Linked DNA regions of Homo sapiens: region 1 is linked to region 2. Evidence: fine-mapped expression QTL. Tissue or cell type: pancreas. Region 2 holds a variant in brackets; the other region holds the start of a gene. All regions are shown on one strand. Distances are between the middles of the regions.

Region 1 (8,102 bases), 34 kb before region 2:
TGCCACCTTGATCTTGGGCTTCCAGTCTCCAGAGAGTGAGAAATGAGCATCTGTTGTCCGTAAGCCACTCTGTCTGTGGCACTCTGTATAGCGGCCCAGATGGACTGAGACAGCGCCCACCTCCACCAAGTCCACAACTGCGGAATCAGCGTCTGCGTCCCACTGCGATCCCTGGGTGACCCGCTGTTTGTACACTGAAGTTGGAGACACACTGATTCTTAGAGAACATTTAACTAATGGATTTAATCCTCTCATTAATGGAAGACTAAGTTGAGGATCTGAAAGGTTAGATGATTGATCCAATTATACTTATGCTTGTTCTATAAAAATAATATTCAGAGACAGCAGGACCTTAAGAATCATTTGTTTGGAAAAATGACCTCTAATTACAAAAATCTGTGGTGGGTGGTGGAGAAGACCAAATCTCAATAGAAAAATGGTTAAATATCTATAGTCCCAGCTACTCGGGAGGCTGAGGTGGGAGGATCGATTGAGCCTAGGAGGTTGAGGCTGCAGCGAGGTACGAATGCGCCACTGAATTCCAGCCTGGGTGACAGTGAGAGACTGTCTCAAAAAAAGAAAAAGAAAAAAGAGGGCAACCCATTTCTCCAGGACTCCTGTCTGCAGCAGAGAGCTCTTCTCTTTCTTTTGCCTATTAAAATTCTGCTCTCAACCTAAAAAAAAAAAAAAGAAAAAGAAAAGAAAAAAGAAAAATGGTTAAAATATGAGCAGAAAACAATCACACAAAAACGTATAAAACGCTTTAAAATGGTCCTTGAACGTATGAAACCCATGGAAGGATGCCAACTTCACTCTGAATTAGAGAATGCAAATTAAATTACATTGCGGTCTCATTTTTCACCTGTCAGATAGAAACAAATTAAAAAGTATGATGACACATTCTGTTGGGAATGCTGTGGGAAAACAAGAATTCCCATATGACGCACAGCGCTTTTCTAAGGGAAGGTGGCAATGCGTAACAAAATTACTTATGCCTTTACCTTTTGAGGCTGAGATCCCACTTCTAGAAATTTATCCCAAAGGGGCTGCTCCAAAAGCATCCTAACGCATATGCCTAAGTTTATTTGTGGGGCATTGTTTAAAATTTCAAAATGTTGAGTATGACTCGGATGCAGTCCAAGTGTCTCCACAGAACACGGGCTGGGTGAAAGTGGTCTGACAGCCCAGCGGAGAGCGACGCCGTGGTGAAAAAGCATGAGGGAGGTCTCCTGAACTGACATGGAGGGATTTCCAGGAAATATGTTTAGGCGAACACAAAATGCAAAAATCAAATCCTGCTTTTGTGTAAGAATGAAGGAGAGGTAAGAAAATATACATTCAAGCAAAAAGAAACCCAGGAAGCATGAACCAGAAAGCAAGGTTGGGTGCAGGAGGGAAGGCAGGGGCCGGTGGAGTGTGGCCTTCTCAAGGGAGTGACCTCCTTAGATGGCTTTGACTTTCAGAAGCAGAGTGTTTCACATATTCAAAAGTCAACAAGGGCTGAGCATGGTGGCTCACACCTGTAATCCCAGCACTTCGGGATGCCAGGGTGGGCAGATCACATGAGGTCAGGAGTTCATGTCACCCAGGTTCAAGCGATTCTCCTGCCTCAGCTTCCCGAGTAGCTGGGATTACAGGCGGGTGGCACCACACCTGGCTAATTTTTGTATTTTTAGTAGAGACAGGGTTTCCCTGTGTTGGCCAGGCTTATCTCCTGACCTCAAGTGATCCACTCACCCTGGGTGGATTATCCCAAAGTGCTGGGATTACAGGTGTGAGCCACTGCGGCCCACCTGCATTGTTATTTTGAATGTATTTTCTCATAGTGTCAGATAAAGCAAGTAATTGTATTTTTGTGTTTAGGAAGCAAGGTTTTTATTACAGGAGAAAAGGAGATGCTATGATAGAATCGAGGATTTCAGAAGGAATTGTTCTGTTAGAAGTGGATTGAGAATGTCAATGTGAACTTGTATCTTTTATGAAAAAATTATTTTAAATGCCATCTTTCTAAGTTCTGTCCGCTGAAACGGCTTATGAGGAGCCCCACGATGCCTCCTGCTGCCAAAATTCTGGTCTCCAGTACTATTTTTCCAGAAAAACAAAAACAAAAGTATCAGCACTTCTAGGAGAAAAGGCTCATTCTATGTCTCAGGCAGAAAATTACAAGAGGAGCCTGGAATATCTTGTGCCAGAAAACAAGATGTTCAGACATTCATAGAAATGACAAGACTCGGCTGCTTATCTAAGAGGGGCCCCTCCTGGTCACAACTGAGACAATTTGAGGATCAAAGGAGAATATTGGCTGAGACTGATTGATGTACAGCAAATCTGAAATGTCCCATGTCCATAATGATACATAAAAGAGTTAACAAAGTGTTCTAAAAGTAAGTGGATTGCATAGATGATATTTCTGTTCATTGTCAATCATGTTGGTATTATCGACTCACTTATTGTATGGTTAAATAATAAAGAAGCTAGTACTAGTAAAACCAGGAAAACAATCTAATGTAATGATTAGTAGGCATTTCCTAACATAAAATTAGTAGAATGACCCTCTAAGTTGTGATTATGATCCTGAAACTACCTATTAAAAATACATGTGCAACCTCTATCAACTTCTATCAGGTTCTAGGTTTTAAAAATCACATTTCTTAGGATCTCATGAGGCTCAAAGCTAAAGAGTTAGAAAGGAAAAGCATTTATGTATATTAACAGCACATTAACAGCTAAAAAGAAAAACTCACATAATCATATTAGTTCATAGAAACAATGCATTTGACATACTCCAACATCCATTCATGATTTTATTTTATTTTTTATTTATATATTTTTTTTGAGATGGAGTCTCGCTGTCACCCAGGCTGGAGTGCAATGGCTCGATCTCGGCTCACTGCAGGCTCCGCCCCCGGCGGTTCACGCCATTCTCCTGCCTCAGCCTCCCGAGTAGCTGGGACTACAGGCGCCCGCCACCTCGCCCAGCTAATTTTTTGTATTTTTAGTAGAGACGGGGTTTCACCGTGTTAGCCAGGATGGTCTCGATCTCCTGACCTCGTGATCCACCCGCCTCGGCCTCCCAAAGTGCTGGGATTACAGGCGTGAGCCACCGTGCCCGGCCCATGATTTTAAAAAAACCTCTCAGAAATAGAAACAGAGGGAACTTCCTGAATTTGATTAAAAATACCTGCAAAATCCTAGAGCTAATATTATACTTAATGGTGAAAGACTGAATGGTTTTCCCCTAAGATGGAGAACAAGGCACGGATGTCCTTGCTCACCACTCCTATTCAACAAAGGACTGGAAACCAGAAATAACTTTAATTTTTTTTGTTCTCAAGTGATAGGTTCACAGAGAAAAAGCTTTACTGGATGAACTTTTAGATTACTACTTTTATAGAGCAGCAGAGATAAAAGCCAGGTCGAAAAGTGCATGTGGAGTAAGGAAATGGACCTAGTTCGACAAAAGGGCTCAGAACGACTGCCCAGATGAGATTGTAGACGCAGCTGTAGTTTACTTTCTATCTGGAAGAAACTTCAAGTTATCCTTAATTTTCCAAGGAGACAGTCACTTACCTTTTAAAAAACATTATTAGAGAAGCACCGGGCGGGAGCATATCTAGCATTAAAAATGTGGGATGAATACCATCTCTGCTTGGTAAAGGTGGTTGGGAATCCTGAGAGAGGGCACCTAGTGTGGCTTCTGCATTTTTCACAGTGCCTGGACCACGGCTGAAAGTAACTCTTGCATGACATTTGACAGAAGAGGAAACCGAAGCTCAGATTAAATTCCCTGTCCACAGCGGGATCATTCGGCACGAGTTCCTCCCTGTCTGGAATGCTCTTCCCCAGCAATAGATCCTGCGGCTCTTCCGTGTCTCAGTCTAATGTCATTCCGTTCCAGGATTCCCGACTTCTTAAAGCATAAATAATCCCTCCCCACCCTCTCATTGTACTGTTATGTAAGTTATTACAATATGTCATTATATATTTAGTCATACTGCTTTAGGTAATGTCTTCTCCACTGAACTGTAAGCTCCATGAGGGCAAGAGTTCAGTCGGTTTTACTTAATAATTAGCACCTAGTACAGTACTAGCATAGAATGAAGGCCTCGCAATTTTTTTTAAATTTATTTTTAGACAGGGTCTTGCGCTGTCGCCCAGGCTGGAGTGCAGTGGTGCAACCTCGGCTCACGGCAGCCTCGACCTTTCGGCTCCAGCGATCCTCCCGCGTCGGCCTCCGGGGTAGCTGGGACTGCAGGCGCGCACCACCATGACTGGCTAATTTTTTTTTTTTTTTTTTTGTAGACATGGGGTCTCGCCATGTTGCCCAGGCTGGTTCCTGAGCTCAAGTGATCCTCCTGCCTCGGCCTCCCAAAGTGCTGGGATTACAGGCGTGAGCCTCAGCGCCCAGCCAAGTTAGCCTTTTTTAAACGTCCTGTCTCCGGAGGTTGCCGAAGTTGGTTTTCTTCGGCCTCCTTCTCTCTCCCAGGCCCAGGGCTGGGACGAGGCCGGTTCCCGCCTGCAACCTGCACTGAAGACGGGAACCTTGGGAGCCGGTACCGGAACGCTCGGAAACGGCACCAAAGTACGAATCCTAGGGCGGAAAAGCGTTACCAAGACACTCGTCCCCAGAGCCGCTTCCTGGGACTCTCTAGCCTCCTACCGCTTCTCAGTGATGTTCCGGTTTCCGCCCTCCTCCTCGCGCTGTTTCCGCCTCTTGCCTTCGGACGCCGGATTTTGACGTGCTCTCGCGAGATTTGGGTCTCTTCCTAAGCCGGCGCTCGGCAAGGTAGGTTGGCGGCCTGCTCTCCGACAGAACTTTTCTTCTTGGGTTGAGGAAAACGCCTTTTGGAGTCAGGCCCTGGAGGGGCGAGCCTTGCTCACAGGGTGGGGATACAGCCGATTACCCGCCCTGTGCTTTCCGATGGCTTCTGCGGGGCGAGCGGGGCCTGGCCGGGGGGTGCGGGCGGGAGGGCGAGCCAGCGGCGCCTGCAGCCCGGGCCGCGTAACGCTGACCGCTGTGCCTTCAGTTCTCCCAGGAGAAAGCCATGTTCAGTTCGAGCGCCAAGATCGTGAAGCCCAATGGCGAGAAGCCGGACGAGTTCGAGTCCGGCATCTCCCAGGTGAGAGGGTTTCCCTGGGGTCTGGGGTGGGGGGAGGCGCCCCGCCCGGGAGGGGAGGCGGCCGCGCGTGTGTTGGGCCCGGGGTGCTCGGACGCGCGCTCAGGGTCGGTCCTGCTGTTCGTTGCTTCTTAGGCTCTTCTGGAGCTGGAGATGAACTCGGACCTCAAGGCTCAGCTCAGGGAGCTGAATATTACGGCAGCTAAGGTAAGCTGGCGCTCCCTCGGCTGGGAGGGAGGTTGCGGCGCGTCTCCCCGCGCAGTGCCTGAGAGGGTTGGACCTGGGTTACGGTTGATGATGACTTGCCGCCTGGCCGCCTAACCTGAACTCAGGTTCGGCCGTGTTGTTTGGGAGTGATACCGCCCAGGTGCGGGGAGTGGGGTTGCAGGTACCCTGCGGCTTAAGCTGTCCACATGCGGGCGGTGGAGAAACGTGGAGTAGGGAGGGCCTGGGCCCATTTCGGACCTTATTTGCCCTTACTTAGTTATAGATACGGCAAAGAGCTGTGGGGAGCTCAGGATGAGATTCTCTCTACCCTTAGCCCGGAGTTGCCGCAAGTGGGGGTGCAGAAGTGGTAGTGATTGGCCTCCTGGCCTGAACAGTCTCCCTTCCTGGAATAAGGAAATGTGAAGGTTGGAGAGAGATGAGAACATTTCCGAAGGATGCATTTATGATTAACTCAAAACTAGTATTAGTTTGTAGTGCAGCTACGGTGTTAGTGATAAGGTCTTCTTATCCTCTAATTTGACCACAACGTTTACTTTCTGAAGCAGTTAACACAGTGGATTTTTGTTTTTTTCTTTAGGAAATTGAAGTTGGTGGTGGTCGGAAAGCTATCATAATCTTTGTTCCCGTTCCTCAACTGAAATCTTTCCAGAAAATCCAAGTCCGGCTAGTACGCGAATTGGAGAAAAAGTTCAGTGGGAAGCATGTCGTCTTTATCGCTCAGGTATCTGTTCTACTGTTGCAGCACGTTTCTGTTTGTGAATTTTGCTAAAATTGCTTGTATTTAGACTGCATTGGTAGTTGGAGTCATGAAAACAATCCTTTTATGAATCCAATTGGGTAGAAAGATAAAGTACAGGCAGAGCGCCGTGGCTTAGGCCTGTAATCCCAGCACGGGGAGGTGGAGGCGGGTGGATCACTGTAGAGACCAGCCTGGGCAACATGGTAAGACCCTGTCTACAAAAAATAGAAAAAATAAGTTTTAAAAAGAAAGATAAAGTACGTTCTTTAATTAAGAGTCGAAACAAGAAGTCTGTAAAGTGACAGACTGCTGTGTTTTGAGTTATGAAAATGATTTCCCATATTTAAATTTCCACAAGTCTAGTGGGTTGCTTACATAGATGATCAAACTAAGAAACCTGTTACAGGCCGGGCCCTGTGGCTCACTCCTGTAATCCCAGCACTTTGGGAGGCTGAGGCAGGCGGATCACGAGGTCAGGAGATCGAGACCATCCTGGCTGACACGGTGAAACCCCGTCTGTACTAAAAAATACAAAAAATTAGCTGGGCGTGGTGGTGGGCGCCTGTAGTCCCAGCTACTCGGGAGGCTGAGGCAGGAGAATCGCGTGAACCCGGGAGGTGGAGCTTGCAGTGAGCCGAGATCCCGCCACTGAACTTCAGCCTGGGCGACAGAGCGAGACTCCATCTCAAAAAAAGAAGAAACCTGTTACAGTTCGGATGGGGGATTGGTGCAAACTGAAGTCTATGGGGAATGAAGTGCCAGGATTGATCTGGAATAAAAGTAGTATTCTGGGTCATAGGCATGGGGAAAGGCGTATCTGGGAGATTTTGTCCACTGGCGTATTAGTAGAGGCTGTGGATTCTGAATGATTTATTCAAGAATCAGGAAGTAACTCCATAGAAGGGTTTGCTCAGTCAATTGTTCGTCTAAGTTGTTTAGCCTTCTCGAACTTTGAACTTACCCTGCCATTCTTCTTGCTTTTAAAGCAGTATGGCAGTTACAGCTTTTTGTCAATTTAAAGTCTTTTTTCATTTTGTTACATGATAATTTTTACCTTACAGAGGAGAATTCTGCCTAAGCCAACTCGAAAAAGCCGTACAAAAAATAAGCAAAAGCGTCCCAGGAGGTGAGTATTTTAGTAGTTTCAGAAATGTGTGTACCCCTCTTATTAACAACTCTTAATTTGTTTAAGTTGTAGTTTATGAAAACAGATGTTCAAGTGGGAATTTTTGAGTAGCAGCATTTGGTTTCCTGTATAGTTGCACATGATACGTTTTAGAATTCTAGATGTAAAACATACATGTATTCATGTAGCCATTGTTTGCCTACTAGGTCAGTGCTGTCACAAGATGAGATGATTTCCTCCGATTATTTGTGCACAGGATAGGAATGATGAGAAGGAAATCATTACTTTAATTCTGTGATATAGCATGCTAGACACAGTTGACATGGGCTTGGATTTATCTTTGATTTTTATTTTTGCTGTGGATTGGAGGTAAAAAAATGTAGGTGGATTTTGGTGATAACATCACAGGTTAAAATATCACTGCAGTTGAAGATGCTGATGGAAAATGATTTATGAACTTGATTGACTTACAGGTTATCTGGCATAAACTCAAATATTGGTAGTTGTCTTCTTGAACTAGATCTTTTGGTATTTTGTTAGTCTCTGATTAGTATGTTGTTTTACAAATGTGAACTATTAAATCCCTGTGGACTCTTCCCTAAGGATGAGTTGAAGAAAAAAAAAATCCTAGTGTTGCCTGTGCCCTCTAACATGTTTAATTTGTATTGTTACTCTCAGTGGATGAGGAAACTGATCCAAGGCTGGGATAATTTGCTGATTGCAGCTAGTACTAGTAGTGCTAAGAATGTTTTTTTTTTAACTCGGTCTTGTTCTGAAAACCACTAGAACACAGTGTTGGGAGTCTGGTAATGTGTTATTGTGTCGAGCTGTGGTATGTGGAAAGGTAGGTGCCAGCTTTTCTAGAACTTGAATTCTATGGCTTAGTACTTTG
Region 2 (8,102 bases):
TGTCCTGCCTGCGCTCAGGATGAGGGGGAATCTGGCCCTGGTGGGCGTTCTAATCAGCCTGGCCTTCCTGTCACTGCTGCCATCTGGACATCCTCAGCCGGCTGGCGATGACGCCTGCTCTGTGCAGATCCTCGTCCCTGGCCTCAAAGGTAACCGCTCCCTGGACTCTGGGCTGCTGGGCAGTGGCCTCCGGGCCAGCTGAGAGACTCCCATGCAACTGCGCAGTTCCACGGAAAAGCACAAAGCCCCAGCAAATCTGCTTACCCCATTGGGTCTCAGTTTCCCCATCTGGAAATCAAGGGTTGGGTGACATGATGTCTAAACTGTCTTCGGCCATGGAATTCCTAATTCTGAAGATGGCAATTTATTTGCAACTCAGCCCTCTCCGGGGGGACCTTGCTGGAAGGCACCTGGCTTTCCGTCAGACCCTGCACACATGGCCTCGTGTGATCCTCCCCATGAGATGATCTCATGTGGACCATTTTACAGATAAGGAAATTTGAGGGTCAGAGAAAATTTGCAACTTGTGTTAAGTTCCCAAAGTGTGCTTCTACATTGCTTCCTGAGAGCTCTTAATATTTTATTTTAAAAATTAAAAAATCCCTGGTGGTCTAGTGGTTAGGGGAAAAAAAAAAGACAGGAACTTTTTTTTTTCTTGTTGCTTTGTCTGTAATCTGCTCCCGGATAGAGATAGTTCTGCAGGTGAGGCATGGGTGAGAAAGTCCCTGAGGCTGCGGTATCTGAAGCCTCCAGAGCAGCATCTTCAAGTAAGAAAATGACCAGCTTCTACAAAGCAGAGGCAACAGGTCCCCAAGCCTGGGGGAGCCCGGTGTGAAATGAAAATGTGGGCCCCTTGTTCAAAATTACAGAACCCAAGAAGGGACAGCAGAGTGTGTGCCAGTGTCGGGTGGCAGGGCCGGGGCTGCACCGGCCGCAGCAGAGTCCAGGCCGCCGCTGAGGGGAGTCACGTGGGTGCCGAGGAGGGGGCGGGGGAGTCACGTGGGTGCCGAGGAGGGGGCGGGGGAGTCACGTGGGTGCCGAGGAGGGGGCGGGGGAGTCACGTGGGTGCCGAGGAGGGGGAGGGGAGTCACGTGGGTGCCGAGGAGGGGAGGGGAGTCACGTGGGTGCCGAGGAGGGGAGGGGAGTCACGTGGGTGCTGAGGAGGGGGAGGGGCGGCCACGTGGGTGCTGAGGAGGCGGGGGAGGGGAGTCACGTGGTTGATGAGGGGGAGGGGAGTCACGTGGGTGCTGAGGAGGGGAGGGGAGTCACGTGGGTCCTGAGGAGGGGGAGGGGCACATTGACCTTTTGCAACCTGAATCCGGTCCGCCCCCTCCTCATCCGCGGTCCGCTTGGGCCTTCAGCTTCTCCTGTGGAGCGTCTGCGGCTCTTTTTATTGAAACATTAGAGAAAAGTAGATTCAAACCCATGATCAAAACAGTCACCACGAAAGACAAACCCTGCTCAGCCCGTGTTGTACAAAATGAAAAGGTCAGCCCTCTCCCGGGGCACAGGGTCCGGACAGCTCGGGGCCACCCTGCCAGGCTGTGCAGCTCTGGCTGGGGGCTTTTTTCCGGCTGTGTTAGCCCTGCTGTTGGAAACCAAGTGGACTGTCCTGCAGCCCAGACAAGCCCAGTGGCCTTTGTGCTTTTAATTGTGATAAATGTACCTGCTTTAGAAAATGTTTAATTATGTTGGAAGCAACTTAAACTGTTGGATGCCTACGGCTCTCTCAGAAGTTTTGGTGAAAGTGGCTTTGGCCCTGACTTTGTGGTAGCGTGTGTGGGTTTGTGAGTGGAACCTTCAGCTTTAGGTTGGAAACGGTGGCTGTGGAGAGCTGGACTTTTGGCTGTGGAGGTCACGTCCCTGCCCAATGTGGTGGGTGCCTCCGAGTCCCTACGGTTGTCTTCCCTGCGCCCTGCCAGGTCAGTAGCCTGCACTGGTGGGGGCCGTGGGGTGGGCTCCAGGGTCCTTTCTGGGCGCCGCCTTTCCCAGGTGCTGTTGGGAGGGTCCTTCCCAGCTGTCCACGTCCTGGGTCCCCTGGATGTGCTGTCATTTCCCACATGGGTAGGGTCCCTTCTCAACCTTTGCAGGCTGGGAAGTAGGGCAGGTCTGAGGGTGCTGTGGGTCAGCCGTCCTGCGTGACGGGTCACCTGTCCTCCCAAGCCTCGGCCTCCTGGTCCGTGAGGTTGGGGAGGCGATGCCAGCTTGGGGCTCTGTGGGGATGCAGTGGTGGCACCAGGAGTGGGCACACAGTGACCGGGGACCCAGCCCCTGCTCCTTGCTCTGGGACAGTGACTTACAAAGCACTAACCCTGTGCAGGCAGCGAGCCCGACCAGGGAGCAGATCAGGTGTCCGTCCAGCACGTGCCCCGCGAGTCCGCAAGCGAGAGGCGAGCACCAGGGGCAAGGAGCGGTTTAGAAGGATTCAGGATACCCAGCATGTCAGGAATTGGGTTACTCAATGGAGAAAATGGTGTGTGCCAGCAGACTTCATCCCTGCCGGCCCCAGCATGTGCCGTAGCCCCCCAGGGTCGCTGGAGGTCAAAGAGGAGAGGCAGCGTGCGGCACAGTGCCAGCTTCTAAGGAAACAGACACACACGCAGTCACCATTCATTAGACAAGCGTCCGTTGAGAATCCACCAGGCAGGCTCAGGGCTGGGATGAAGAAGCCGCGGCCTGTCTCCTCACAGTCCCGCCGTTCGGCCCCGGACACGGGGTGGCATCTGGTCTGAGAAACACAGCACGCGCCGCCCCCCCAACCCCCACAACCCCCTGTGTTTTGGATCCTGAAACCTCTGCCAACTCCACATTTGGCTGGAGAATCTTCCTGAGCACACGAGTCAGGCTGCCGCTGACTGCTGGTGGTGCTTGAGATGACATTTATTTGCCATTCCAGGCCATTTCAGATAATAATAATATATTATCTTTACATTTAGAGGGAATAATATATTGTCTTTACATTTAGAGAGAATGACAACTCCTTTTAATGGGAAAAAAGTCTTTTTTTAATGGTTAAAAAAATGGCTGTAGGTGAGAAAACATTTATCTGTATTAACAAATGTGTTTCCCAGAAATATGAAAGGTCATAGTTCTTCTTATAGGCTTTATCAAATGAATTTTTTTTTTGCTTTTTTTTTTTTTTTGAGATGGAGTTTCTCTCTTGTTGCCCAGGCTGGAGTGCAATGGTGCGACCTTGGCTCACTGCAGCCTCCGCCTCTCAGGTTCAAGTGATTCTCCTGCCTCAGCCTCCCAAGTAGCTGGGACTATAGGCGCGCACCATCAACGCCCGGCTAATTTTTGTATTTTTAGTAGAGACGGGGTTTCACCATGTTATCCAGGCTGGTCTCGAACTCCTGACCTCACGTAATCCACCCGCTTTGGCTTCCCAAAGTGCTGGGATTACAGGTGTGAGCCAACATACCTGGCCTATCAAATTAATTTTAAAATCATTTACTGCCATTCTTTAAAACAACATTGATAAAACCAGTAATGGGGCCTGAATAACATGCGCTGTGGGAGGTTTGCTCTTCTGACACCTGACGGCCTGTCTGTGCCGTCTCCCCTTGTGTAGAACAAGCCAGGCAGGCTGAGGTCCTGGCTTTCTCCTCTCTGACTTCCCATGGCCCTGGGGTGCCGTGGCACTTGTTGTGGCCAGCAGGGATGTGAAGTCGCTGGCACACGAGTTTGTTCAGCTTGTAAGCAGGTGGCGTGACAGTCAAGCACTGTCCACGGATCTTCCTCAACTGGCTATAAATATGTCGAAGTATCTTAGGTTCTCAATAAAATAACTGACATGCGCCTTCCTAGCTGGGTTGGAAATGACCCCAAATA[C/T]GATCTAGGTAAAAGCTTTTTGTTCGTAGATTTGTACATGATTTGCAGGGAAGCCAAGCAAACAGTAAATGTCAGCCACGTTTTGTTTCTTTGAGCGAGGAGAGAGCTGCGTTGTGGTGATGGTGGAAGTGAGCCAGCAGTTGAAATGTTAGCCTCTCCTGGTAGAGAAATAACTTGTCATTAGAACTTTATGTAGTCAATCATCCTGAAAATGAAAAGGATGTGGGAAAAATGTCATTGTGCTCGCTGGGTCTACATTACAAAATGCATGGAGTGTTGAGTGGGGACGTGTATAGAAATCCTGCTCTGGAGTCATTACCTGCAGGGACATACATCTTTATGACCCCTGGGACCAGTGGACAATGAACACTTCAAACCTTGCCAAATTGGCCAGGTGCAGTGGGTCACGCCTGTGATCCCGGCACTTTGGGAAGCCGAGGTGGGAGGATGACTTGAGCCCAGGAGTTTGAGTCTACCCAGGGCAACAGAGTAAGACCCCATCTCTGGAAAACAAAAAACAAAAACAAAACAAAACAAAAAAACAACCCTGCCAAATTGTGAACAGTGCTTGAAAACAGCCTTGGTTCTTAAGATGCGTGGACAGGGCAAGTCTACAAGGCGGAGGCGACGGGGACCGTGGAGAAACCAGGGCAGCCCCGCCGTGGATGGGAGGCCTCTGTACTCTCTGGTCCTCAGTGCTGTTGGTCCTGAACCAGGGATTAAAATACTTTTTCTCGTGACAACCAGCACGGTGTCTTCCAGGGCATATTTTGTTCAATCCCCATCAGAGCTGAGGAGGACCAGGCTGGGAGGGCTTACGCTGGGTTTTGCACAGGAAGGAAAGCAGTTTCTGACTCCAGGTTTGGGTTCCCCACACTGCAGGCACAGCCGTGAGGCATTTGGGGTGCCTGCTGCCCAGCACTGGCTGAAATGCGCCTGGCCCTGTACAACTACAGACACAGGTCCATTAAGCAGAGCCCTTGGGAGATGGCATGTAAGTGGATTTTGTGATTAGCTGAGAGATATAAAGAAAACGTGTGTTAAATCCTCTTCTTTAGAAAGTCTTGCTGTTTTTAATGACTTATGATTCTTTCTCTCCTGCTTTAGTAACGAGAGTTTGTGGGACACAGTGTAATGTGTGGTGCTTTTCAGGGTCTCTTTCCGTGCCTCCAGTTGTTACTATGAACTATTTTTCTTTGATTTTTTTTTTTTTTTTTTTTTTTTTTTTTTTTTTAGAGACAGGATCTTGCTCTGTCACTCAGGCTGGAGTGCAGTGGTGCACTTATAGCTAACTGCAGCCTGCAACTCCTGGGCTGAAGAGCTCCTCCCACATCAGCTTCCTGAGTGGCTGGGACTACAGGTGCACAGCAACACATCCTGCTATTTTTTTTTTTGAAATGGAGTTTCGCTCTTGTTGCCCAGGCTGCAGTGCAATAGCGTGATCTTGGCTCACTGCAACCTCTGCCTCCTGGGTTCAAGCGATTCTCCTGCCTCAGCCTCCAGAGTAGCTGAGATTATAGGCACCCGCTACCACGCCTGGCTAATTTTTGTATTTTTAGTAGAGACGGGGTTTCACCATGTTGACCAGGCTGGTCTCAAACTCTTGACCTCAGGTGATCCACCCGCCTTGGGCTCCCAAAATGCTGGGATTACAGGTGTGAGCCACCATGCCCAACCCCTGCTAATTTTTTTGTAGAGATGGGGTCTTGCTGTGTTGCCCAGGCTGGTCTCAAACTCCTGCCTTTAAATGATCCTCCTGCCTTGGCCTCCCAAAGTGCCAGGATCACAGGCATGAGCCACTGCACCTGGCCAACCAGTTTTTAAAAATCAGATTAGAGACAGGCAGATGGATGCAGGTGGAGGTTGGTCAGAAGCTATCATGACAAACTTGTCCTTACTGCTTTATCTTTAGGAGGAGAGGAGACGAGGGTGAGTAGTCATGCTGGTTAGTGAGTCTCGCTCTGGGGTTTTGAAGCCTGAGCAAGGTGTGGTAAAGACACACTGGCGTGCCAGCACATCCCAGCTTGGACATGTCACTTGATTCTCGTAGCTGTGTCTTCACCTCTAGAGTGGACATAGTGCCCGCCCCATGTAGGGGGAGAGGTGAAATTATTATGCAAATAAGTGAATGCCGTGTACAAACTCCAGGAGCTTTCTTAAGCAGTATGAGAAGAGCTGGCAGACCTGCTTAGTGTTAATTCTTTACGAGTACTGATGGAGCACCCGCCTTCTTCCTGGTGCTCTGGGGGACCGAGGGTTGGGTGAGATGGAGCTGTGTCTTCTCAGAGTTTTCAGCCAGTGGGAGAAAGAGCAGACTGCTGTCATGTAGGCGGTGTGAAATGCTTTATGAAGGAAACATTCTTCCGCCCTCATCTCAGCCACAATCACTATTGGCCTGGACCGTGGCATGGGTGGTCAGGTTATCCCCATGAGCTCCAGGCATGAAGTCCCTGGGCTGCCTACTGCCTCGGGCTCGTGGCTCGCTCTGCCCAACCACCTGGCTTCCCGTCATCCCCTCCAGCCCTTCCCCCTTGTCTGTGCACCTGCTGACCCTGTCCTCAGAACACTTCTTACTCTGTGCCTGGCTACCCCTGCTCAGCAGCTTAGCCTGAGAACCACCCCTCAGAGGGGCTTTTCGGATCTTGCCGTCTAAATTATGGCTCCTTTGTTGAGGTTATTGCCTCATTTTATTCTTGCGTCCGGTGTTGCTAATGAGAATTCTTATGTCCATCTGATTCTCATTCACAGGTATGCAGTCTTTAAACCTGTTTTTCCCTCCTGGGTAGCTGACAGCATTTTCTCTTTATTCTTGGTGTTCTGTGATGTTGCTCTGACATGTCTGAGTTACTTTTCTCTGATTTTCCCCGTGTGGTTCTCCGCAGGCCCTTTCACAGAGTTCTTTCATGGCTTTCCTTAGCACTGGGAAATCGCAGCTACTAAATCTTCGCAGCCACGAAGGCTTTGTTCCTCTCTTTCCGGAATTGCTGTCAGAGCGACATTGGCATTTGTGAGTTTTTCCTTCAACTCTCAACTTCGTAACTTCAAAACAAACAAACAAAGCCTGCATTTCTTATTAGTGCTGCCCTGTGAACAATGCTTCCTCCTCACCGCTGGCTCCACGAGGCCTCTTCATCCTGGGTCACCGGGGACTCGCCTTTCTGCGGAGTGGCTCCCGCACAGCGTCTCTGCTCGGCTCTTTCCGCTGCAGTGTGCTGTTGTTCCCGGACTGGCCTCTCCCATGTTATGAGGACCTCCATTCACCGATTGCACAGTCAGCGTCCGGCTGCTCCACTGTTCCGTCTTCTCTGTTCTTTCTTCTGCACGATGCTGGTGCCCCTGAAACCTCTGGGGATTCTTAATGCTGAGTTTATCTTGTTAGTGGATATTTCTTGCTAAACTGTCAATACTTCTCTTTTCTTCTTACAAGATAAGAAAGCAAACTTGAGAACTACTTGGAGCCTCAGAGCAGCATGTGGGTGTTGATCGTGGGTCAGCCCAGGGGCAGCCCACAGGCTTTTCAGTAGGTGGCCCTGCGGGGCTGGGGCTGTGGCACGGGGGTGATGTGGGGATGGGCCTGCCACCATCGCTGTGCTTTTCTCTTTGTTACTTGGATTTAAATGGAAAGTCCCCTCCGTGAGGCCAGATAATCAGCTTTGGGGATTTTGTGGAGGGATCTGTAATCTCAACTGAGCCTCTCTCCAAGACAAGGTGTGTGGGCCACAACGTGTGTGGGCGGCAAGCCGTCCAGGTGCCGAGGCAAGAGACCGAGGGCACGAGCTGGTCCAGTATGATAAAATATATAAAACAACAAGAGTTATACTCTATATGCTCTCTCTATATATAGGGTTGTTTTGTATATTTTATCATACTGGAACAGCTCGTGCCCTCGGTCTCTTGCCTCGGCACCTGGATGGCTGGCTGCCCACAAAGGTGCAAATGGAGAGTTATAGAGAAGTAAAGTTTACGTGAACGCTGGCACAATTGTGCAGAGAGGGAAGGTGAACTTGTAGCATATCAGCGCACACACGCGCACACATACACGTGCACACCTATGCACATGCGGACACACGCACACACATGCACCCACGCACCCACGCACACGCATGCACACATGCACACACATGCACACACACTCCCTGTCTGCAACCATTCAGAGGAGGGATAGTGCAACAGGTAAGAAATACGGCCTTATAAAAATGACTACAGAGCCGAGTCCCAGCCAGCAGAGTGGCCCTGTTGAGAGAATCCGGAAGAGCCTCCCGGAGAACCAG

The links. PIP is the estimated chance that this variant, and not a neighbour inherited with it, causes the effect.
Region 1: RPS7 starts here. The variant in region 2 is fine-mapped to the expression of RPS7 in pancreas (GTEx, PIP 0.95).

The regions. Positions count from the first base shown.
Region 1 is chr2:3,570,565-3,578,666 of GRCh38, forward strand. RPS7 (ribosomal protein S7) reads left to right here and starts at 4,696. Exons shown (of 7, transcript NM_001011.4): 1 at 4,696-4,786; 2 at 5,028-5,120; 3 at 5,253-5,324; 4 at 5,923-6,066; 5 at 7,146-7,210. The coding sequence starts at 5,046. It overlaps LOC124907726 (a long non-coding RNA gene), which reads right to left and starts at 4,545. Exons shown (of 2, transcript XR_007086196.1): 1 at 3,571-4,545; 2 at 1-674. RefSeq lists enhancers at 4,249-4,824, 4,825-5,401 and a silencer at 4,953-5,242.
Region 2 is chr2:3,604,322-3,612,423 of GRCh38, forward strand. COLEC11 (collectin subfamily member 11) reads left to right here. Exons shown (of 7, transcript NM_024027.5): 2 at 1-149. The coding sequence starts at 20. Among named protein-coding and RNA genes, the nearest start is that of COLEC11, 13 kb to the left of the region's middle. The variant C/T (reference allele first, on the strand shown) is at 3,832.